Linked DNA regions of Homo sapiens. The protein of the gene in region 6 purifies or fractionates together with the protein of the main gene of each other region. This does not show direct contact. Each region holds a gene or a part of one and is shown on either strand. Other genes may lie near its edges.

The links.
Region 1: the proteins of PPP2R2A (region 6) and SRPK1 fractionate together in Homo sapiens (co-fractionation; one large-scale study listed by BioGRID). This does not show direct contact.
Region 2: the proteins of PPP2R2A (region 6) and ECSIT purify together in Homo sapiens (affinity purification with mass spectrometry; 2 studies listed by BioGRID and IntAct, with this or other methods). This does not show direct contact.
Region 3: the proteins of PPP2R2A (region 6) and PPP2R5C fractionate together in Homo sapiens (co-fractionation; 2 studies listed by BioGRID). This does not show direct contact.
Region 4: the proteins of PPP2R2A (region 6) and CDCA4 purify together in Homo sapiens (affinity purification with mass spectrometry; 4 studies listed by BioGRID and IntAct, with this or other methods). This does not show direct contact.
Region 5: the proteins of PPP2R2A (region 6) and RPS6KB1 purify together in Homo sapiens (affinity purification with western blotting; 2 studies listed by BioGRID). This does not show direct contact.
Region 7: the proteins of PPP2R2A (region 6) and KSR1 purify together in Homo sapiens (co-immunoprecipitation; 2 studies listed by IntAct). This does not show direct contact.

Annotation. Positions count from the first base shown.
Region 1 is NC_000006.12:35,869,099-35,872,598, forward strand, and holds part of SRPK1 (SRSF protein kinase 1), read right to left. Parts: coding exon 3,465-3,500; intron 1,862-3,464; coding exon 1,836-1,861; intron 1,397-1,835; coding exon 1,183-1,396; intron 804-1,182; coding exon 384-803; intron 13-383; coding exon 1-12. UniProt on the Homo sapiens protein: Serine/arginine-rich protein-specific kinase which specifically phosphorylates its substrates at serine residues located in regions rich in arginine/serine dipeptides, known as RS domains and is involved in the phosphorylation of SR splicing factors and the regulation of splicing.
Region 2 is NC_000019.10:11,522,635-11,526,134, forward strand, and holds part of ECSIT (evolutionarily conserved signaling intermediate in Toll pathway, mitochondrial isoform 1 precursor), read right to left. Parts: intron 1,220-3,500; exon of another isoform or gene 722-1,219; intron 1-721.
Region 3 is NC_000014.9:101,764,709-101,768,208, forward strand, and holds part of PPP2R5C (serine/threonine-protein phosphatase 2A 56 kDa regulatory subunit gamma isoform), read left to right. Parts: intron 1-445; exon of another isoform or gene 446-2,341; intron 2,342-3,500.
Region 4 is NC_000014.9:105,014,584-105,018,083, forward strand, and holds part of CDCA4 (cell division cycle-associated protein 4), read right to left. Parts: intron 1-3,500. UniProt on the Homo sapiens protein: May participate in the regulation of cell proliferation through the E2F/RB pathway. May be involved in molecular regulation of hematopoietic stem cells and progenitor cell lineage commitment and differentiation.
Region 5 is NC_000017.11:59,899,621-59,903,120, forward strand, and holds part of RPS6KB1 (ribosomal protein S6 kinase beta-1), read left to right. Parts: intron 1-3,500. UniProt on the Homo sapiens protein: Serine/threonine-protein kinase that acts downstream of mTOR signaling in response to growth factors and nutrients to promote cell proliferation, cell growth and cell cycle progression.
Region 6 is NC_000008.11:26,354,008-26,357,507, reverse strand, and holds part of PPP2R2A (serine/threonine-protein phosphatase 2A 55 kDa regulatory subunit B alpha isoform), read right to left. Parts: intron 3,041-3,500; coding exon 2,875-3,040; intron 1-2,874. UniProt on the Homo sapiens protein: Substrate-recognition subunit of protein phosphatase 2A (PP2A) that plays a key role in cell cycle by controlling mitosis entry and exit. Involved in chromosome clustering during late mitosis by mediating dephosphorylation of MKI67.
Region 7 is NC_000017.11:27,459,448-27,462,947, reverse strand, and holds part of KSR1 (kinase suppressor of Ras 1), read right to left. Parts: intron 1-3,500.

The DNA.
Region 1 (3,500 bases), on a different chromosome or scaffold from region 6:
CCGTGGATTTTCCTACAGACAACAGGCATCATCAATAAGACTGTTCAATGAACAGAGAAATACTCAATGAGTAATAAAGCTCTCCAAGGTAAGAGTAATACAGTCAGCAATACCCAAGTGACAACTTACATTTTCTGAGACAAAAAGAGCACAGCAACGCCTTGAGTTTCCAGAATTAAAAACCTCTGCCCTCACAGCAACAAATGAAGTGCTGTGTACTCAGTACATGATGGATAAAGTTAGCTACAGATTACAATTTAAACGTAACTTAGACACACCTGTTGTAAAGCTATAGTTACAAAAACAATCATACTTTTAGTCTAGAAATCTGTGAATGTGTTGTGCAGGGAAGGAGTGTTGAGGAAGTATAGCTGCATAGGTACCTTTGTTGTCCAGTGGTCCGTTATGTTCTTGCTCTTGTTCATCTTCACAGGGTATCTCTGCCCGAATGCTTTCTTGAAGTTGGCTAATGTGTTGTTCACTGAATGACTGACCTACAGTTGAGGAAGACTGGCACACCATGGTGTCTGACACCTCAGATGTTATAGGTGTACAAGAGTCTGTTTCTTGAGATGTGCTGCTGTCTCCATTTTGGGAGCTTAGGAAACTAGATTCCTGATTCAAATTTTGGACATCACAGTCATTAGCATTATGTAGATCCTCTTTATGTCTCAATGTTTCATTATTACTGTTCTGAGTATAATTAATGACTTCAATCACTCCATTGCAATTAATTTCTGCTGCACCACCCTCTGTATCACGTTCCATAAGCGTTTGATCCTGGCCAATGGTACTTGACTCTTCTAAGGAACAAACGAACAAAAAAAGATATATGCATATGTGTGTGAGTGAAAGAACAGAAACATTTCTCACAAGATTAAAACATTTTCTAGAACTTATACTGAGTGACATAAAAACATGACTAAACATCTAAAACCTATTTCCGGAAGGGCCAAGATCTTACTTTTACCCAATTGTTAAATGAAATCTATGTTCCATTTCCTGAGAAAAGTTACAAATTACATTTAAATATTACCTGCCTAACATTTATGACAAGATCCATATTCTTATAAAGATACCCCCAGAGATGTGTTGTATGTATGAAACCACTGTATTATATAGCAATGATAAATTAACGTTAAAGTGTGTTGTACAGTAATTTTCGTGATGTTCTATTTATACCAAGTTTTTCTTGGGTCATTTTATTAGGTGGGTTCTCTTTCAAGGGTCTTTCAACAGGACTCTCTGATTCTTCTTGCTTGTTTGGTCTTTTTTGCCCAGGGCCCGACTCTTTCTCCATTTCCTCAATTTCCTGCATTCGCTTCTCTAGTAATTCTGCCTGGCGCTTCTGCTTCTTCTTCAATTTCTTCTTCTTATTCTTTGACATTTTGTCAGCCTGGGCGGAGATTACAAACAGATAAAGCCTTCAGGTGGCTAATTAATTACCCCCAGTTGGAGATAGTTGTTAACTTTAATTACTTCCTAATTAAATTTCACAAATCTTTCCCTAACATAGCACTTAAGTCTTTCATTAAATTAAAAGATGCGGGATACTCTTATAAACCCAAATAAAAACAGAATAAATAACAAAGTGTGGTCTTCTGAGCAGTCCGTGGGGTTGGTTTACATTCAGACAAACTCGAATTTTTTAGAGGCCTCACCAGTACAAATGTGATGAAGGTGCATGGGAATTTACTGGAGAAAATTATAGAAGCGCAGGAATTTTTTTTCCTTTTGGTTCTCAAACTTGAAACAAACTGTTACCATCCACAACAGAAGAACCCATGCCCATAGTCCATAGATCAAAATTAAATATAAAAACACCTTATACTTACTGGTTTAGGCTGGGGAGCAGTACTGACTGAAAAGAAAAGAAAACCAAGTAAGAATTCTGGCATTCATCAGGCAATATAAACTAAGGCTCAGATAAAACACTCTACCAGAATGAAAAGTCTTTCTTATGTAGTCTACATTGCAGAGAAAACTATTGTTTTTAAATGACTTAAGTAGAAGCTATATTATTACCATTTTTAAAGAAAATAATGAATAGAAATTGCCAAACTTAAAAAAAAGGGATAAATAAAATTCTTCCTCCCCAGGTAAACTAAAGTTGCTAAAAATCACCTATTTTCCATTCCCATGCACTGCTTAAAATAGAATGGGACAAGCAACAACCTCTTCACCTCAAATGCTACCCAGAATCTGTCAGTTTTAAAAGGGGAGTCTAGGTGACATCAAGAGCTATAGTAATTTGCTCTACAGCATGTCATGGATAACAGTGTAGCTTAGCTGGAAGGTAGGATCTTCAGTCTTCCTCTTTTTAAAATATTAGTATAATAACTGTGGTTAACAAAAAACACATAATAAAAATTTATACTCTAGATAAGTGTACATTCAGTGGTTTTAACACTATTCACACTGTTGTATAACAGGATCTGTAGAATGTTTTCATCTTGTAAAACAGAAACTACATCCATTTAACAACCAACTCCCCATTTCCCCCTTCTTTAGTCTTCCTTTTTAAAGAAGTGTATAACTAATAACTCAACTTGAGGATCAAGCAAGTTCCTAAAAAATGACACACTACTAAAACTAAAATCTGTATCTCAAAAGAAAAAAAATCATAAAGCAGCCTTTATTTATTTATTTAATTTTATGTCTTAGACAGGGTCTCACTTTGTTGCCTATGCTCGAGTGCAGTGGTACTATCACAACTCGTGGCAGCCTTGACTTCCTAGGCTCAAGCAATCATCCTGCCCCAGCCTCCTGAGTAAATGGACTACAGGCACGCATCACTATGCCTGGCTAATTTTTTTAATTTTTGTAGAGACAGGGTCTTACTGTGTTGCCTAGGCTGGTCTCAAACTTCTGGGCCCAAATCATCCACCCACCTCAACCTCCCAAAGTGTTGCGTTACAGGCATGAGCCACTGTGCCTGGTCCCGCAATTTATTTGGTATATAATATTGTGTGGCACACTACTAACTGCTTTACCATTTAATCCCAATAATTCGCAGTTGAGGGAAAATAAAGTAAAATAACTCAGCTAAGGTTTCTCAGTCTAGGATGAAGCCCAAATTCAAACCAAGTCTGTCTACTCCAGTGTTTAAACCTAAACTATTAATAGCAATGTTATCTTGTCCCTCTACAGACTACCAGTCCTATAAATGAGCATGTGTGATCACAGTTAGAGGTAAACACTTCAAAAATCATCAACTCATAAGAAAAAATATTTTTAAACAATACACACCAGCTTTTATAACATACAACACAAAGACACAATATCTAGTTTTCTCCTTCCCCTATGGAAGTAACAGTGAGAATGTCTCTTGGAAGCTGATAATGTTTCTTAAATATGTTATTGTTGAAATGGATTGAGTGGTGTTTAATTCCCTGGTAACAGAATAAAAATAGAAATTTCTTTTTAACTTCTAATGATAGCGAAGTCCCTAAAAGAAAATACACCTGCAGATCCGGAAGGCGGAGGAGCTCCAGATCGCT
Region 2 (3,500 bases), on a different chromosome or scaffold from region 6:
ACCTGGGAGGCAATGTTACAGTAAGCTGAGATCGCGCCACTGCACTCCAGCCTGGGTGACCGAGTGAGACTCTGTCTCAAAAAAATTAATTAATTAAATTTAATTAAATAAAAGTTACAACTTTAAACACTGAGGGGCTAGTAAAAAGAAAAAAGGTCGGGCACGGTGGCTCACGCCTGTAATCCCAGCACTTTGGGAGGGTGAGGCGGGTGGATCACGAGGTCAGGAGATCGAGACCATCCTGGTTAACACGGTGAAACCCCATCTCTACTAAAAATACAAAAAAAATAGCCAGGCGTGGTGGCAGGCACCTGTAGTCCCAGCTACTCAGGAGGCTGAGGCAGGAGAATGGTGTGAACCCGGGAGGCGGAGCTTGCAGTGAGCTGAGATCCCACCACTGCACTCCAGCCTGGGTGACAGAGTGAAAGAAAAAAAAGTTACAGCTGAATGTGCCTGCCTCTCCATCTACCTCCTCCACCACCTCTTCTGCCTCTGCCACCCCTAAGACAGCAGGACCAACCCCTCCTCTTCCTCCTCCTCCTCAGCTTACTCAATGTGAAGACGATGAGAATGAAGACCTTTATGATGATCCACTTCCACCTAATGAATAGTAAATTCAATGTGTTTTCCTGATTTTCTTAATAACATTTTCTTTTCTTCAGCTTATTGTAAGATTATAGTATTATATATATATATAACATTAAAAAATATGTTAATCACCCTTTCCCTGCCACTGCCGAGTTGCGCGGAGGCGGAGGCTTGGGTATGTTCAAGATTCAGCTTCACCCATAACCCACTGCCATGGCCGAGGGAGGCATTGCTGCTGGAGGTGTAATGGATGTTAATACTGCTTTACAAGAGGTGCTGAAGACCGCCCTCATCCACGATGGCCTAGCACGTGGAATCTGTGAAGCTGCCAAAGCCTTAGACAAGCGCCAAGCCCATCTTTGTGTGCTTGATCCAACTGTGATAAGCCTATGTATGTCAAGCTGGTGGAGTCCCTTTGTGCTGAGCACCAAATCAACTTAATTAAGGTTGATGACAACAAGAAACTAGGGGAATGGGTAGCGCTCTGTAAAATTGAGAGAAGGGAAACCCTGTAAAGTGGTTGGTTGCAGTTGTGTAGTAGTTAAGGACTATGGCAAGGAGTCTCAGGCCAAGGATGTCATCCAAGAGTACTTCAAATGCAAGAAATGAAGACATAAATCTTTGGCTCACATAAAAAAATAAGTTAATTGACTGTTATGTAATCACTGAGACCTCTGGACAACAGTGGGCTATTAGTAGTTAAGATTTTTTGTTTTGAGACAGGATCTCACTCTGTTGCCCAGGCTGGAGTACAGTGGTATGATCATGGCTCACTGCAGACTTGACCTCCCAACTCAAGCAATCCTCCCACCACTGCCTCCTGAGTAGCTGGGATTACAGGTGTGCGCCACCACACTCAACTAATTTTTACAATTTTTATAGAGGCTGGGTTTCCCTCTATTTTCCAGGCTGATCTCAAACTCCTGGGCTCAAGCAATCCTCCCACCTCGGCCTCCCAAAGTGCTGGAATTACAGAGGTGAGCCACTGCACCTGGCTGGATTTTGGGGGTGTCAAAAGTAGCCTGGCAGGGTGGCTCACGCCTGTAATCCCAGCACTTTGGGAGGCCGAGGTGGGCAGATCACGAGGTCAAGAGATCGAGACTATCCTGGCCAACATTGTGAAACCCCATCTCTACTAAAAGTATAAAAATTAGCTGGGCGTGGTGGCAGGCGCCTGTAGTCCCAGTTACTCGGGAGGCTGAGGCAGGAGAATCGCTTGAACCCAGGAGGTGGAGTTTACAGTCAGCCGAGATTGCGCCACACTGCACTCCAGTCTGGATGACACAGCAAGGCTCCGTCTCAAAAATAAATAAATAAATAGAGCACCCCACTGAAGGCTGGGCACAGCGGCTCATGCTTCTTATCCACTTTGGGAAGTCAGAGTGGGAGGATCACTTGAGCCCGGGAGATCAAGAACAGCAAAAAGAAAAAAAAAAAAGAAAGAAAAAAAATACCAGCTGGGTGTGGTGGCACTCATTTGTAGTCCCAGCTACTCAGGAGGCTGAGGTGGGACGATCACTTGAGCCCAGCAGTTCAAGGTTATATGAGCTATGATTGTGCTACCACACTCTGGCTTGGGTGACAGAGTGAGACCCTATCTCAAAAATAAAAAAATAAAAAATAAAAAGCACTCTGGCCAGGCGCAGTGGCTCATGCCTGTAATCCCAGCAATTTGGGAAGCCAAGGCGGGTGGATCACAAGGTCAGGAGTTCAAGACCAGCTTGGCCAAGATGGTGAAACCCCGTCTCTACTAAAAATACAAAAATTAGCGGGACAGGGTGGCGGGCGCCTATAATCCCAGCTACTAGGGAGGCTGAGGCAGGAGAATCACTTGGACCTGGGAGACAGAGGTTGCAGTGAGCCGAGATTGCACCACTGCACTCCAGCCTGGGCAACAGAGTGCAACTTCATCTCAAAAAAAATAAATAAATAAAAATAAACATAAAAAGCACTGCAATGACTTTCATATGCACCTAGGATTAAGACCTTAATTTAAATTTTCAGGGCCAGGCTCGGTGGCTCATGCCTGTAATCCTAGCACTTTGGGAGGCCATGGTGGGAGGACTGGTTGAGCCCAGGAGTCCAATACCAGCCCTGACAACATAGCCAGACACTGTCTCTATAAAAAAATTTAAAAATTAACCAGGCATGGTAGTATACACCTGTCTGTGTTCTCATTCCTTGGGAGGCTGAGGTGGGAGGATCACATGAGCCTGGGAGGTCCAAGCTACAGTAAACCAAGTTCATGCCACACACTCCAGCCTGAGCAACACAGCAAGACCCTGACTCAAAACAAAAAAACAAAAACAAAAACAAAAAAACTACAGCTACTTAAAGTGTGTTCTAGGGACTGGCAGTGTCAGCAACATTTGGAAGTTTATTAGAATAGCAAAATTTGGCCGGGCATGGTGACTCACGTGTGTAATCCCAGCACGTTGGGAGGTCCAGGCCAGCTGATCACCTGAGGTCGGGAGTTCGAGACCAGCCTGACCAACATGGAGAAACCCTGTCTCTACTAACAAAAAAAAAAAAAAAAAAATACAAAATTAGCCGGGTGTGGTGTATGCTTGTAATTCCAGCTACTTGGGAGGCTGAGGCAGGAGAATTGCTTGAACCTGGGAGGCAGAGCTTGTAGTGAGCCAAGAGCACACCATTGCACTCCAGCCTGGGCAACAAGAGCGAAACTCCATCTCAAAAAAAAAGCAAAATCTCGGCCCTATCCCAGACCTACTGAACTGGAATCTGCATTTTTTTTTTTCCCAGGCGGAGTCTTGCTCTGTCGCCCAGGCTGGAGTGCAGTGGTGCAATCTTGGCTCACTGCAACCTCCGTATCCTGGGTTCAAGCAATTATCCTGCCTCAGCCTCCCGAGTAGCTGGGATTACAGGCACATGCCACCATGCCTGGCTAATTT
Region 3 (3,500 bases), on a different chromosome or scaffold from region 6:
GACTTGTTTCTTTCTTCCCTGTCACCCTTTTGACTAAATTCATTTCGATGAAGATGAAATGTAGGTGCTTTATGAAGGTATATGCTATATGCCTTTTTTTTTTTTTTTTTTGGTCTTTTGATCTTTCATTAAAACTGCTAAGATTTCTTCTCCCCAGAGCTTTCTTGCTAATGTGCCTATATCCTCTTACTTTAGCTATATTCCTTATACAAAGGAGCATCAGTGTGTATATATCATTTATTTCTATTTTTAGTGGGAAGATCCTGGCTGTAAGGATGAATAATGTTAAGTTTAAACCTGAAAAATCTCAGTAGTTCAAAGATACCAAAATCACTACTATGTGAAATGTGTGTTTTGAAAGCAGTTTGCCAGCCGTGTGAGACCTGCGGTGTGGCCTGCAGTGCCTGAGTATGATGCCCCACTTGTCTTTTTGTATTTTTTCTAGTGCTACTGTCTAAGAGCTGGAGCTACAGAGCTTGAAATTACCACTGAAAACACTGAAATGTTGGGCCCTTCACTGCTTCCTCATAAGGATACCAGAGGCAACCTGGCATATTAAGCTTGACACTTGGCAGATCACTGTGTAAATTGTTTTTCAGGAATACAAGTTGGGACACTTCTGTTCATTTGACCTTTGAGTTGACCCTTAAATTTTATTATTGTTTTTTTTCCCCTCAGTCTTCAGCTCACTGCTTCACTTCTAGTTCCACCCACTTACCAAATATGATTGACTCATGCAGGTGAATTAAACCATTATTGCACACTTTTTCCCTCTCCTCTCTCTCAGTATTACTCTTAACTTGAATATTTTAACCTGAACAATTTAAATAGGCTTGACATTCCCATGCTGCTTTCAAGCCTTTTTTTTTTTTTTTTTGAGACAGAGTTTCACTCTTGTTCCCTGGCTGGAGTGCAATGGCACAGTCTCGGCTCACTGCAACCTCCACCTCCCGGGTTCAAGTGATCCTCTTGCCTCAGCCTCCCAAGTAGCTGGGATTACAGGCTCCTGCCACCATGCCCAGCTAATTTTTTTTTTTTTTTTTTTTTTTTGTATTTTTAGTAGAGACGGAGTTTTACCTTGTTGGCCAGGCTAGTCTCGAACTCGTGACCTCAGGTGATCCGTCTGCCTCAGCATCCCAAAGTGCTGGGATTACAGGCGTTAGCCACCATGCAGCCCCTTTCAAGCCTTTTAACATCATGTCACCTTCACAATGAGCAGTTGCTCCCATTACCCAGTGAACTCACCTTCTGATGGGACAGTTACCCTAGTTGGGGCTTCTCAGCCTTGAGAGATGTGCAGAGCAGGGACCTGTCCAGGGCAGAGCAGCCAGACAGCGTGGAAATAATCCAAACAGAGAAAGCATTCAAGAACTTGGCCTCTGGTTGACTTAACACACTACTTCAAGTATATGGCAGGTCTGTATAATAAACTCCTGCCTGTCTAGTCTTCAGCCTCATAGAAAGCAAGAAAGCAGGTGGCGTATGTTGCAGAACAATTCTTGGGTAGAACAAGGGGACATTTGATGGTTTGGGTTTTTCAGTAAGAAAGATGAAGTCCTGGAGTATAGGGTAGAGTGGTACAGTGGAAAATATTTCAGCTTGGGGGTTAGAAAATAAACATGCCGATTCTTGCTTTGCCATAAATGATGTCACCTAACTTGTGTGACCCTGTTTTCTCATCCCTAAAATGATTTGATAAGTTTAAGATTAGGCTATTTTTAAATGTATGGAAGAAATTGGGTGTTACCCTTCTTGAAAGACATTTTCCCTGCAAGTATGGCAGGCTGTATCTTTCAGTGTAACAAAGTTCTATTAAAGGTCATAACTGCTGCCCTGTAACTTTTGCCTTATTCTAGAAACTTCTACTCCTTGAATGACATGTGTTGGTACATGTTTCTTCTCTTTCAGATAGAATGGTTAATTTTGACTTGTTGCTTCTGCACACGTGTCCTGGAAATAAAAGTTTCTTCCCACTACTTATTGCTGATTTATTTCATAGGAAGTCTTAAGGAAAGAGGCAAAAAACGGGCTCATGGGTCACTTGAAGTTGGAAAATTCTGTGGAGATTGACAAAGGAGACTCACTTTTGAGCATCTGTTCTCAGTGTAACCTTCAAATCTGTGGAAACATAACTAGGCACATTTTATGATTATTTAGAATGTTAATAAATTGCTCTGAGTTTCCTCAAGTCCATTTTGTAAGATCAGACCATAGGTGGGTGTTGTTTCTTTTAAGTGTGTGTACTGTGTCCAATGTTACATTTTTAGAAGTGTTCATGCTTTTTGTAAAGTGATTCGTTTTAAGCACATTAAAGGTCGTTTGAGTATTGTCATGTATTTTACACCTGCTTCAGCTTAGTTTTGTTTGAAAGTCTCTACAGCAACTCTTACATAATATCTGTTGCTGAAGAGAAAGAACAATCCTCTCTCCAACTCGTTAGCTAGCTTTGCCACCTTCTACCTTTAGTAAATTTTTTCCTGTTATAATCTGTCCCTTTACATTCCAGTGCCACCACTCCCTGATGGTCTAGACCTAGGGAGACTGACAGTCGCCTCAGGTCGCATAGGTGCTAGGCGGAAGGGTAATTTTTTTAGAAATTAAAATTGAAATTTTAAAAATATTTAATAATACACCCATTAAATGTTAACAACATTGTTATGAAAAATATCTTTGCAAGAAATACTCCTTTTCACAGTCTCTGTAGCAAGAGTTTTTACCTGAGTAAGGAGGAGGACAAGGACAGTCATTTTGTTCGGCACAACTCCTCCAAGGAGAGCCCCTGACACCCCTGTAGGCTCACTTCTGAGCTTGGGGCTTTCGCTAGAACCTCCCTATGCCTTAGCTTCCATCAGTCTCTTCCCACCTTTTTTTCCATACAACCCTAAGCTGAACTTGAGTGAAAGAGAAGACCAAGAGAAGTAATACTTTAAAAATCTTTTTGAAATTCATATGTAATGATTATGGAGTAAATGGAATCATTTGCTTTTAATTGCCACGTCTTGGCTCCCTCTTCCCAGCGCCTCCCCATGGTCTTTCCTTAGAGCCCAGGGGCATCAGAAAGAGGTTCTGCGGGGAGGATCCATCCCTGGCAGCCGCAGCCTCAGCTCCCGAGCTTTGGGGTTGTTAGGAGGCAGATGTCCTGAGCTTGCTGCCCTTGAGGCTTGAGGGAGTGGTGGGTTCTTCCTTAGGCAGCTCCCTTCTCTAGCCCCCATTCCTGTCCTACATCACAAGCTGCAAGGTCGGTAGACCCCAGGTACCTCCTTTGTGACCTCCACTGCTCTAGACCAAGGGTTCCCATCTGAACACTTGACTGTGGGGCAAGATATTTTGTTGTGGGGCTGCCCAGTGGTCCTCTACTTTGTAGGACATTCACCAGCATCCCTGGCCTTACCCCTGGATGCCAGTGGCCCACTGCCCCCACCAACTGTGACAACCAAAATGCATCCAGACATTGTCTGGACATTGTCTAATGTCTCCTGGAGGATCAAATCGCCCCCTGT
Region 4 (3,500 bases), on a different chromosome or scaffold from region 6:
TTTCTATTACTTTTGGTAAATATTCGAGTTCTTTGTGTCAGCCACAAATTTAACTTTTCAGAGCTTTTCCATCCCAATCCATTGTTTAAATCACTGGCTTAAAATTGCTAAGTATATCGAGAATTAACATAAGGCTATGTCAAACTACAAAGGACACCCTGCGTTGGGGAAAAGATTAAGTCCCACGGGTTCCTCTGTGGGAAGTCAATATACCTTTTAGGTTTTTAGTTTCTCTTTCAACCTATCTCAATCCCAAGCCTGCATAGCAATGGATTAATTTAGGACCCAAACCAAATCCTCTTGAACAGCATGCATTAAGCCCAAGTTTATAGACAGAAGAACCCCTGGCTGCCTCCCCTGACTCTGGAAACCCAGCAGCACAACCCCCATAATGTGGGGCCTACAGGAGGTCAGCACGACTGAGCAGGGCAATCAGGGCAACTCACAGAAGGAACAAGAATACCAATGGGACAGGCCAAGAAGACCCACAACCACACTGGGAACCAGTTCAAGAAGCTGTCCCAAGCTCCTAGGACCCTCTGGGTCCCACTTTCCTTTCCTCTGAGTCCTTAGAAATGCCAGGTCCTGAGTCCAAACCCAACGACAGACCCTCCCGCCCTTTTCTGAAAGCCAGATATGGATACTAGAAGCCTCCCACTGGGGATCTTAAGAGGATGAATTCAGTGCTTGGCCTGGTGCTGTCAGCGGTCCTAAGGGCAGCACTAGCAATACGTGACCGTCAGAAATCACCCTAATAACATCTGCTCTGAGCGAGGGAATATACCAACAAACAATGGCGGAACCACATACAGAAACAGAACTCTCAGCCATTATCTGCCGCCATCAGTCGGAAACCAGCCCTTTACCTTCAGTAACGGGCCAGGAAGCCAGGTTGCCCTAGTCAGACCTGCAGGAAGCCTGGCTGCTTTCTCTAGGAACAATCCAGGAAGCTAAACAATCATTTCCATAGCAAGCAGCCCAAAATGGCCAGGACATGATTAGTAACCGACAACCTCTCCAGTTTTTGTCCCTGCTTCCAATTTAGGACCAACCAGAGAAAGCCAAACATGTTCTAGGCCATCTCACAGGAGCCCCACTTCTTTGTTGTTGTTGTTGTGTCGCCCAGGCTGGAGTGCAGTGGCGCAATCTCAGCTCACCGCAACCTCCGCCTCCCAGGTTCAAGGGATTCTCCTGCCTCAGCCTCCCGAGTAGCTGGGATTACAAGGGTGTACCACCAGGCCTGGCTAATTTTTATATTTTCAGTAGAGACTTACCATGTTGGTCAGGCTGGTCTCAAAACTCCTGACCTCGGGTGATCCACTCACCTTGGCCTCCCAAAGTGCTGGGACTACAGGCGTCAGCCACCGTGCCAGGCCAGGAGCCCCACTTCTAACTGGCCACCCCAGTCCCCCAAGTCAGCAGCCTCCATCAGCCATCCCTGAGCTTCCCTGGATTCCACTGTAAAGCTCTCCTGTTCCCTCACCTGCCTATGAGTTTCTGCCAATCACGAGAGAGGAGGGCCGCACCCTTGCTAGGGGAAGCTCTGGATAAACAGCCTCTGCCTGTTCTCACCTGGTTGCTTATTTCCACAGCTCACCATAGACAATCTGGAAGAGCATCAAAAACCATAAAACGAATTTTCTCCCAGGATCCCATCCACTCAGAAAAACACAGTCACCACCTGGGTTCCTCCTTTCCAGTCGTTTCTCCCAGCACTTTCCTCTCTGCACAAGGGAGGGAAGTTTCACACTACTGACAATTTTCCCAATCACAAATGATACCAGTTTCTAACTTTAGGTGTTTTGGTATTTCTAGCATTTGGCTTCCTTAGCCTCGGCTCTTTACTTACTAGGGTGATGTGCAGGTACATTTTTAAGAGGCTTGATAAACATTATTAAACTGCATCCTAAGAAGGTGGAACGCTCCACCAACTTTCTCCCGCACTATTTCTGCACACTTGCTGGTAAAGCTTCCTCTTGTTTTGCCAAGTCTCTAAGCCCCACAGCTAAGCGTTCCTTCCCTCCTCCACTGAGCTCCACGTCTGTGTTCCTACCCTGTTCCACGGCTGCTCTCCTGCCAGGACCAGACACCCTGGCCTCCCTGTGTAGGTCCTTTTCTGGCCATGCCACCCTTCAGCTCTGGGTCAGCCCAACAATGTGGCATAAATGGGATCCCACAGCAAGCACCCTTCTGAGGTTGGCTTTTCTCCTTCAGCATAATTCTCTTGAGATCCTTGCAAACTCTTGTGTGTCAACAGTTCCCAACAGAGTAGGATCTGGAGGCACAGACGGAGCAGAGTGTCACCACACCCCAGCTGAAGGGAACTTTTTCCTTGTTTCCAGTTTGGAGTTATTACACATAAAGCTGCTATGGACATTCTAGAACATGTTTTTGCATGAACATTGGTTTTTCATTTCTCTTGGATAAATGCCAAAGAAATAATCGTTTTATAAAATTTAGGAGTGTTAAATGCACAGGCAATGAGATCTATCACACCGAAAAGAAATTCAGAGAACAGGGGGAACCTTTTTTCTGTCTATTCAAGGACAGGACCAGCAGGTGTGAGCCTCCAGAGAGGCTCCTGGGGAGGTGGGGGGCGGTCCTTGGCCTAGTTTCATCACTCTCAGTTGTAAGCATTCTTTTTTTTTTTAGATGGAGTCTCACTGTCGCCCAGGCTGGAGTGCAGTGGTGCAATCTCGGCTCACTGCAACCTCCACCTCCTAGGTTCAAGCGATTCTCCTGCCTCATCTTCCCTCAACTTCCCGAGTAGCTGGGATTATAGGCGTGCACCACCACGCCCAGCTAGTTTTTTGTATTTTTAATAGAGCCGGGGTTTCGCCATGTTGGCCAGGCTGGTCTCGAACTCCTGACATCAAGTGATTTGCCCACCTCGGCCTCCCAAAGTGCTAGGATTACAGGAGTGAGCCATCACACCCAGCCACAAGCATTCTTTTAGGACTTAAACAGCCCGGGCACAGTGGCTCATGCCTGTAATCCCAGCACTTTGGGAGGCTGAGGCAGGCGGATCACCAGGTCAGGAGATTGAGACCATCCTGGCCAACACGATGAAACCCCATCTCTACTAAAAATACAAAAGATTAGTCAGGTGTGGTGGCACGTGCCTGTAGTCCCAGCTACTCGGGAGGCTGAGGCAGGAGAATTGCTTGAACCTGGAAGGCGGAGGTTGCAGTGAGCAGAGATTGCACCACTGCACTACAGCCTGAACAACAGAGCGAGACTCCGTCTCAAAAAAAAAACACACACACACAAAAAAAACACTTAAAACAAGTTGAATGTATACGATCTGGTGTATTCTGACAAAGGAATGCAACTCAGCAACATACCTCAATGATTTATGCAACACGGATAAATTTCAAAACATTATGCTGAATAAAAGCAGCAAGACACACACAAAAATATGTACCGTAGGATTCTATTGATCTGAACCTTCAGGACAGGCAAAGCTAATCTAAGTTGTGAAAACACAGAAGGGTAGCCAC
Region 5 (3,500 bases), on a different chromosome or scaffold from region 6:
AGCAACAAAGACAAAAAAAACCTTTAACCATGACCACCCCCATATCCCACACATAAAAGAAACTGTATCCAGTTAAAATGGTGAGAATTGGTTTTTTCCCCCTTGATACTGCCCCATCTCTTTGCCTGGGTATAATCATGAAGTGTACATTCCTGGTATTACATGTTATCGTGATTTGGTCACACCATGAGTGAGTTATGACTAAAATTTTGTGTTTTGGGGGCATTTGAACATTTATTCTATAAGAATACTATCAGTTTTTGGCTGGGTATGATAGCTCGTGCCTGTAATCCCAGAACTTTGGGAAGCTAAGGTGGAAGGATCATTTGAGGCCAAGAGTTCGAGACCAACCTGGCCAACAAAACAAGACCCTATCTGTACAAAAAATTAAAAAAATAAATAGTGGGCATAGTAGCACACAGCACACGCCTGGCACTAGTGACTCCAGAGGCTGAGAAGAGATGATCACTGGAGCCCAGGAGTTTGAGGATGCAATGAGCTATTATCCTACTACAGCACTCCAGCCTGGGTGACAGAAACCTAATTGCTAAACACACACACACACACACACACACACACACACACACACACACACACACACACACACACACCCCTATGTGTTTTTGTTGTGTATGTTGGCTGTGTACTGGTAGTTTTGAAGAAAGATATATTCACTTTAATATCTTAACTACTCTAAAGTTTTGACATGATTGCTTAAAGACTTGTAATGTTTTAGAGTCTATTTTCTTTTTCTTTTTTTTTGAGATGGAGTCTCACTCTTGTCATCCAGCCTGGAGTGCAATGGCGCGATCTTGGCTCACTGCAACCTCCACCTCCTGGGTTCAAGCGATTCTCTTTCCTCAGCCTCCTGAGTAGCTAGGATTACAAGTGCCCGCCACCAGGCCTGGCTAATTTTTGTATTTTTAGTAGAGGCGGGGTTTCTCCATGTTGGCCAGGCTGGTCTCGAACTCCCAATCTCAGGTGATCCGCCTGCCTTGGCCCCAAAGTGCTGGGATTACAGGCGTGAGCCACGCGCCTGGCCTGGAGTCTATTTTAAATTAATTAGTATCCTTTCGTGTAAACTGAGAGTTCATAATCAGATTAGATTGATTTTAAAGCTATATATTATAATGTCAGTAACTGAAATTCTGCTGCCAAGTTTTTTGTTGTTTTTTGTTTATACAATTCAGTGACTTTGAGTATATTTACAGAGTTGTGCAGCCATCACCAAAATTAGGTTTTAGAAATTTTTACCACTCGGCCGGGCGCAGTGGCTCAGGCCTGTAATCTCAGTACTTTGGGAGGCCAAGGCAGATGGATCACTTGAAGTTGGGAGTTCAAGACTAGCCTGGCCAACATGGTAAAATCCTGTCTCTACTAATAATACAAAAATACCCAGGCGTGGTGGTGCATGCCTGTAATCCCAGCTACTTGGGAGACTGAGGCAGGAGAATCACTTGAACTTGGGAGGTGGAGTTTCCCATGAGCCGAGATTGCACCACTGCATTCCAGCCTGGGCAACAGAGTGAGACCTTGCATTTTTTTTTGAGACGGAGTCTCGCTCTGTTGCCCAGGCTGGAGTACAGTGGCGCGATCTCGGCTCACTGCAAGCTCCGCCTCCCAGGTTCACGCCATTCTCCTGCCTCAGCCTCCCGAGTAGCTGGGACTACAGGTGCCCGCCACCACGCCCGGCTAATGTTTTGTATTTTTAGTAGAGACGGGGTTTCACCGTGTTAGCCAGGATGGTCTCGATCTCCTGACCTTGCAATCCGCCCGCCTCAGCCTCCTAAAGTGCTGGGATTACAGGCGTGAGCCACCGCGCCTGGCCGAGACTCCATCTTAAAAAAAAAAAAAGGAAATTTTTATCACCCTATAAAGAAATTTTGGGGCTGGGCATGGTGGCTTACGCCTGTAATCCCAGTACTTTGGGAGGCCAAGGCAGATGGAGCGCATGAGCCTAGGAGTTTGAAATCAGCCTGGGCAGCATAACAGCACCCTGTCTCTGAAAAAAAAAAAAAAAAAAAAAGAAAAAAAAAGAAACAGAGTTTTGGCCAATTTAGTTACTTCTGATTCTCACCCTCAGCCCCAGGCAACTAACCTATTTCTCATCTCTATAGATTTGGCTTTTCTAGGCCCAGTGTGGCTCATACCTGTGATCCCAACACTTTGGGAGGCCGAGGCAGGAGGATCACTTGAGACTAGCCTGGGCAACATAGTGAGACCCGTGTCTCTACGAAAAATAGAAAAAAATTATCCGTCTTGGTGGTGTGCGGCTGTAGTCTCAGCTGCTTGGAAGGCTGAGGTTGGAGGATCGCTTGAGTCTCCAAGGTTGAGTTTGCCGTGATCCTGCCACTGCACTTCAACCTGCGCAACAGAATGAGAACCTGTCTCTAAAAAAAAAAAAAAAAAAAGCTTTTTCTGGACATTCCATATAAATGGAATCATATAGTGTATGACCTTTTATATTTGGTGGCTTTCACTTTTTTTTTTTTTTTTTTTTTTGAGATGGAGTCTCACTCTATCACCTAGGCTGGAGTGCAGTGGTGTGATCTCTGCTCACTGCAACCTCTGCCTCCTGGGTTCAAGTAATTTTCCTGCCTCACCCTCCTGAGTAGCTGGGACCACAGGTGTGCGCCACCACACCTGGCTAATTTTTGTATTTTTAGTAGAGATGGGGTTTTGCCATGTTAGCCAGGCTGGTCTCAAACTCCTGACCTCAAGTGATCCGCCTGCCTTGGCCTCTCAAAGTGCTGGGATTACAGGCGTGAGCCACAGCATAAAGTTTTTGAAGATCATTTATGTTGTAACATGTATCAGTACTTCATTTCTTTTTAGGGCCAAATAGTTATTCTGTTTTATGGCTACAGTGCATTTTGTTTATCCATTTACCGGTTGATGTTCATTTGAGTTATTCATTCAGATGTTCAACTGAATTGTGAATAAAGCATTTTTTGTTTCTTTTTTTTTTTTTTTTGGAGATAGGGTCTCACTCCGTTGCCCATGCTGTAGTGCAGTGGCGTGAAAAAGCTCGCTGCAGCTTCACCCTCCTGGGCTGAAGTAATTCTTCTGCCTCAGTCTCTCATGTAGCTGGGACCACAGGCACGTGCCACCATTCCCAGCTAATTTTTTGATTTGTTGCAGAGATGGGGGTCTCGTGATTTTGTCCCGGTTGGTTTTAAACTCCTGGCCTCAAGCAATTCTTCTGCCTCTGCCTCCCAAAGTGTTAGGATTATAGGCATGAGCCACCTCCTCGCCTGGCCTGAATAAACCTTTTAGAAGGCTGGGTGTGGGGGCTCATGCCTATAATCCTAGCACTGTGGGAGGCTGAGGCAGGTGGATCGCTGGAGTCCAGGAATTCCAGACCGGCCTGGGCAACGTGATGAAACCTGTTCTCTACAAAAAATGAGCCGATGCTGGGCATGGTGGCCTGTATTCCCAGCACTTTGGGAGGCCGAGCTGGGTGGATCATGAAGTCAAGAGTTTAAGACCAGTCTGGCCAA
Region 6 (3,500 bases):
GCTTGAAGGAACATTAAATTAACTCAAGTTATAAGGTGACTATGACGTCCTTTAAGTAAAAATGATCTGGGAAACCCAGTTCATATAATGATCATGGAAAGCCAATGCAAATATTTTTATAAGATTAATTTTGGTTAATCAAACCTGGAAAGTTTGGTACTATTTTCCATCATTCTCCCACAGATATAGTTTTTATATAGACCCATTATATTGGGGGGGGGGGGTGTTACTATGCTCACAGAAAAAACTCACAGAGAAAAATACACAAAATAATATAAAAGATATCACTCAGAATCAACAGATGTTGACATTTTTCTCTAAGTCTCCTTCTTTCCAAATAGTTTTTCAGATATAGTTCAAGTCCTACTCCTCCCATCCTTTTCCCATCTACCCAGACACAACAGTTCATATGATTCTCATAATCTGCTTTATCCTTCCACATTGGACTCTATTATTAAGCACTTATTTTAGCATTAAAAAATGCAGCCCCCAGTTAGCTGTATTTTACTTAGTATTAAGAAACAAAAGACAAAAATCTACAATGCATTCTCTAATGTCTTTAAACAAGATTTAATCCATAGACGTTGTAATCGGATTTGCTTCGAAATAACACTGAGGAGGAGGGGAAGGGGAAGGATCCGAGACACAAATTAGCCATGAACTGAGGAGTGTCAGAAGTGGATGATGAGCATGCAGGGCTTCACTATACTATTCTCTTGAACTCAGCCTACATTTAAAAAGTTCTCTTTATAAGAAAGCTGATGTAGCCCTATAAGAAATAAACTGACATAAAAATATTCCAATATATAAAATGTTAACAACACATTTCCCTAGGAACATTTACTTCTAAAAGTAGAAATTATATAAATGGTTTAATTATGTATCATCTGATGCCAAAGAACAGTGTCTAAAATATTTGAAGCTATTTGAAATAACTTAGTTTACCATATAAATTAAAACTGACCCAAGACTAGAAGCTAGCATATGACAGGAATAAACTGTTCCCTCCACCCATAGTGCTGTGATTTACAGGCTTTAAATAGTTACTTCTCTTTATTTTTCTTCTAATAAGGACAAGAGAGGGGAATGCAGTCTATTGTGAAAACAGAGAAGGCAGAGGGTACGCATCTCAATGGACTGGCTGGGGAAAGCTTTCATGATCAGAAAAACGGGCACCCAGGAGGCGGCCAACGCTGATGGCCATCAGGCATTTGTGAACAGCATTTCTAAGAACTAATACTGTGGACGAGGGGCATCAATTAGATGGAGGAAGTGCTGAATTTCTTCCCCCATTTCATCCTGAAGTCATTTAAGTATATATTCTGCAAATGTTTATGGTCTAGGTGTTAGAATTTGCTTTTTAAATTAATAGTGAGGGGATGAGAAAATAAGAGGTTCCCCTCACCCTAGCACCAACCTCAAAAAAGTTTTAATCACAAATTTTTATAGACTACGGCTACCCAGAAACTAAAGTATCTCCTCAGTCACTCTAATGATTCCCTTTAGACTCAAGACCCCAACAAAGTCCAAACAATTCACAGGAAAAAGTTTTTCATAAGAACAAAGAGAAAGCACCCAACTCATCATAAAGGATTTCAAATTCTGGTAGAGTCATTACTAACTTTTTTTTTTTTTTTTTGAGACGAGTCTCGCTCTGTTGCCCAGGCTGGAGTGCAATGGCGCGATCTCGGCTCACTGCAAGCTCTGCCTCCCAGGTTCACCCCATTCTCCTGCCTCAGCACCCCCGCCCCAGTAGCTGGAACTACAGGCACCCGCCACCACACCCGGATAATTTTTTTGTATTTTTAGTAGAGACACGGTTTCACCATGTTAGCCAGGATGGTCTCAATCTCCTGACCTCGTGATCCACCCGCCTCAGCCTCCTAAAGTGCTGGGATTACAGGCGTGAGCCACCACGCCCGGCCTGTCATTACTAACTTTTAATCCTCACTCAACTTTTCCTGGGCCAGGCATAGTGGCTCACACGTGTAATCCCAGCACTTTGGGAGACTGAGCGGGGCAGACTGCTTGAGCCCAGGAATTCAAGACCAGCCTGAGCAACATAGGGAGACCCAGTCTCTACAAAAATGTTTTTAAAAAATTAGCCGGGTGTGGTGGCACTCACCTGTGGTCCCAGCTACTCAGGAGACTGAGGTAGGGAGGTCGAGGCTGCAGTGAGCTGTGATTACACCAATGCACTTCAGCCTGGGCGACAGACATTGTCTCAAAAAACAACAAAAAATGTTCCCTTGGCAAGTAAACAGTAGGAGAGGAATCTCCTTCCAGCCATGTGGATTGCTGGGAAGAAGGCAATATGCTAATGGTGATCAAGTAAGAAAGTGCTCTCCTATAGCGTATCCTGGAATGGAGACCATCCTTTGAGTATTTTGTATCTGCAGTTTGAGATACTCTGTGTAGTTTACAAACACTTAAAAAGGAGGAATAAATTAACATTTATTGAGCACTTGCACTCATGATGTATGTGAAGTTATTTAATATTCATAATAATACTATAATAAAAAATTGCTATCTCTAGTTTGCTGCTGAGGAAAATTCAATTCAGTGTTAGTAACCTGCCCAAGATTACGAGACTGAGAAATGACAGAAATATTACCTGACCTAAATCCAATGGTATAGCAGCCCATTCTTTTCACTACAAATTGGAGGTGTAGTAAACAAAAAATTGCTATCAGAGAATCTTTCAGAGAATCTAAAAACTGCAAGTGACAGTAAAAAAGTAGAGTTTACATTCTGTATAGAAAAACAAAAGTCCTTTTTACAAGTATCTCTGTTAAATGATTCCTCTCCTAGGCTACAGGATATGTGCAACAGGTACACACAGTGGGCACATGGAAAGAAAATATGTATACTTACCATTGGTAGACAATAAAAACTGAGCAGCATTTTTCTGGGGTAACCACCTAATTTTGTTGATCTTTTCTTCTATTTCTAAACTTTTCAAGTAGTCAAACTCTGGTTCATGGCTCTGGAAGGTGCTGTAAACATTATATTCTCCTCTGCTATGAGACTGGATTTTGTTCTAAAATGAAAACAAAAATATATGGACCATTGTTGAAAAATATTTCAAAATAATCAAATATGTAATCAATTCCAAAGGACCCTGCACATTCTCAATACCCCATTAGTTGTGTCTTTATACAATTACATTCTGTTTTTTATATTTCTAAAGGCCTTCAAGGATTAAATGAGAAAACTTAACGGGGGAAAAGGCTAAATAAAGCTGAATAAATAAGCTCAATTCATTAGGGAAATAATGACGTTAAATATGGATCAATTTGATTGCTAATTTACTCTTATGTATTTGATGGTATAGTCTATGAAAAAAACTGATGAAAAAAAACTGAGCACCCATAATAAGGAAGTTCATCTAAAAATAATGATAAAGTCTTGCCCAGAAAGAGCTAGGTGAGGCACACCTTCTTCCTATGCCCACTTTAGGGTCAACTCCCCGATCTGTTATTTAATATGATGTATTGTCC
Region 7 (3,500 bases), on a different chromosome or scaffold from region 6:
ACACAATGCAGCCACTAATAGTGCTGATGCATATGTATATGTGCTGATACAGACAGAAGACATTTACAAGGCAATGCACATGGTATGTGCCACAAATATACACATGTACATTTATATGCAAATGCAGGAAGAATATACAACAAAATGTGCACTGGAATTAACTCTGAGAGGTGGCATTATGGGTGATTTTCACTGTTGTACATCTAGTACTTTCTTTTTTATAGTGAACATATATCATTATGTATTTTGTAAATATTTTAATTAAAAGTAGAAAGTTAAAGAATACACTGTTTATCAGAGGAACTGTTCAGAAAGAATAAGACAGGTAGCCATTTAAAAAATTATGAGTAAACTGATCTCTAGGCAGCTTCTCCTTTCTCAGAATGAGACAAGCGTAGAGCGGGCTGCATCATGGTGCTGAGAGTCCTGTCTTTGAGGATGTGCTAGCCTGGACATTAGGGAAGCAGACCCATGCCCGAACCCTGAGGCTGCACAGCCTGGGTGGCCACCAGGAAGCCCAAACATCTAGAGTTGAGCCACGGAATGCCCTCGGCCCAGCCCTTTTTATTATTGGCCATTTCCTTGGTCTCAGCAACCATGGCCCTGCACAGAATCTCCCCGCCACAGCAACAGCTGTGGAGTTCTGAACATAAGTTCTCAAGACCAGTCAACCTGGGTTCAACCACCTGCTAAGACAGTCTCTCCATCCCTCTGAGCTGCAATTCCCTCATCTGCAACATCAGGATAAGGCCTCATAGCATCATTGTGAATGTTAAGGTGCAACATATGCCGAGAGCCTAGTGGAGTGCTCAACATAGAACAGGTGATCAAGCACGTTCTTCATCTGTGTCTGCCCTCTCTACTCCAAGATCATTCCCCTAACCCCAAAGGCACCTATGCAGCTTTCCCTTTGAATTAAACATAAAAAAGAGATCTCAACCAGCCTCTTCTGAAAGGATGGCCTTTTAAAAAGGCATAGCTTAGAGAGACTTGGCCACAGGCTTTGCTGCTTCTCCCCGGCATTGCAGACACTGCCACCGTGGGCCAGCGTCTCCGCATGGTCCATCTCCAGACACACCCAGCGGGCAGGAGTAGAATACCTGCGGCGCACTTTCCTGGATTTTGAGGCAGCCCAGACCACTCCAAGAAGAGGAAACAACCCTGACGTGGAAGAAGGCATTCCCATAGCTGCAGGCAGCAAACCACACCTCCAGATCTGATAAGACCTCTCTCCAGCACCACCCAGCCCTCCCCAGGCTCACAGCCACTGCGGGTCTCCCTCCAGGCTGCCTCTAAGAAACATTTGGGAGGTAGGTTTCACCAGGGAAAAAGTTACCCGGGTGAAAGTGGACACAAAAAAGGGCCAGAGCCCCAGCTCTGTATCTCTTCAGAGACGGCTGGAGCCACTTGGCCAGAGGGTTACAACTGTGGCCACAGAGCAGAAGCAGAGAAACGCCACACTTTGAGACAGTGGCTGGGTGGGAAAGCAAAACCAGGTTTCAGTCTCAGTTCTGCCAGGGACCTGTGACTTGGGAGAAGTCCCCAAGACTCTGGGAATATTTCCCAGAAAACCAGGAGGTGGCTCACACTTGTAATCCCAGCACTTTGGGAGGCCAAGGTGGGTAGATCACTTGAGGCCAGGAGTTCGAGACCAGCCTGGCCAACACGGCAAAACCCTATCTCTACTAAAAACACGAAAATTAGCTGGACATAGTGGGGCATGCCTGTAATCCCAGCTACTCAGAAGCTAAGGCAGGAGAATTGCTTGAACCTGGGAGGCTGAGATTGCAGTGATCCGAGATCATGCCACTGTACTCCAGCCTGGGCGACAGAGTGGGACTCTGACTAAAAGAAAAACAAAAACAAAAACAAAAAACAAAACAAAACAAAAAAACCAGGAGGTTGGATGGGCCAAGGGTTCAGTGGGGTTCCCAATGCAGGGTCCTGCAAGCTGTGCTACTAAAGTCATTACTGTGCCCTGCCTGGCTCCTTCACTAGACTAGAACTGTCCCTAGACCCCAAAGACTGGGAGAACAGCCCACCTACTTCAGAGCCCTTGCTAGGTGGCTGCCAGCCAGGTAAGCACATCAACAGTAACTAAAGGTCTGTCCAGGGAACGTGCCTCAACACACCCTAAGGACCCAATCTGCAGGAATGCCACCCCTCCCCTCTCCCAGCAGTTCCATCATCAGATGCTCCTGGGAGGCATAGGGAGAGCTCAGGTCCCCCACACGGTGGGACTCTGACCTCTGCCACGGCAGAGCTGTGTGAGGGCCAGGCCTCTCTGACCTTCCAGATGGCAGGAGGGCCTCCCCTCTGACCCCCTGCGGCTCCAGGGCAACTGCTCAGGAAAGCAGCCCAAGGGCAGAGACTGTACCTACCACAGTTCCCAACATCGCCTCCCAGCACAGCCTGACTCTGCACCTACCACAGTTGCCAACATCACCTCCCCCAGCAAAGCCTGATGGTCAAAGTCCTTCAGCCCCTTTCTCCACGCCAGCTTGCTTAGGAGGGATTTTTCTCCACAAGAACACAAGGTGGGGAGACTCAGCATGGCAGAGCCTGTCTCTGGAAAGTACTAGTAGGCTGGCAGGAAAGGGCAAGTCACAATGTCCCTGGAACATAAATCTCCATGAGGCAACATGTGTCTGCTTCTACACACCCTTGTCTCCCCAGCGCTGGGCAGATTCAAAGGAATGAAGGTAATTATTACTGGCATAGGTTGCAGGCCCAGCTATTAGGCAGGCCAAGTGTCCCTCTGTGAGTACACTGGGGCATAAGAACATTCCCGTTTGCCTCGGTGGAGTTTTCAGACCCCTAGGAGGGTCTAGCGGAGACAGAACACCAGCTCCTGCCAGGATGAAGTAGCCTCACAACTTCTGTTTACAGATTAATACCCTGGTTTCAAATTGTGCCTCCCTCCCTTTATATTTAGAGAGGGAAAATGTGTATGATGAAAACTGCTGATCTCCAGGAACGTGTGTGAGTTTGAGAAGAGTCAGGCACGCTGCTAGGCACACAGGCAGCAAACGTTAAGTCTCAGCTCCTTCTACCCTTTTCCATCCAAACTGGACCACCACACAGAGAAAAGCTATCCCCGGACAACCAGACACGCTGACCCACTACACCCCATCACAACCCAATTTCAGGCAGCAGCAGCCCATCCCTGGTCAGGGACCTCCACGGACATTTCACGTGCTGCTTCTCCCACTGAGTGTTTATTTAATGAAGGCCAGAGTGAGCTGGGGCTCCTCAGATTCTAGATAAGTCCGATGCAGTTGCACAGGCCAAGCCCTCCAGGTCAGATCCTTCTTCAAAAGCCAGGAATCCAGTGTTGCAAGCACAGTCTCTGGGGCCACGGCCTGGTGTGTGGGGAGCCCACAGAACAGGAAAGAACGCTGGAGTGGACACTGCCACTTGCCTGCCTGGCCCCAACACATGCTGCTGGCGGTGGACGGTCCCACCCAGCTTGCTGAGATTGTTTCCTGGCTTGTGTCACC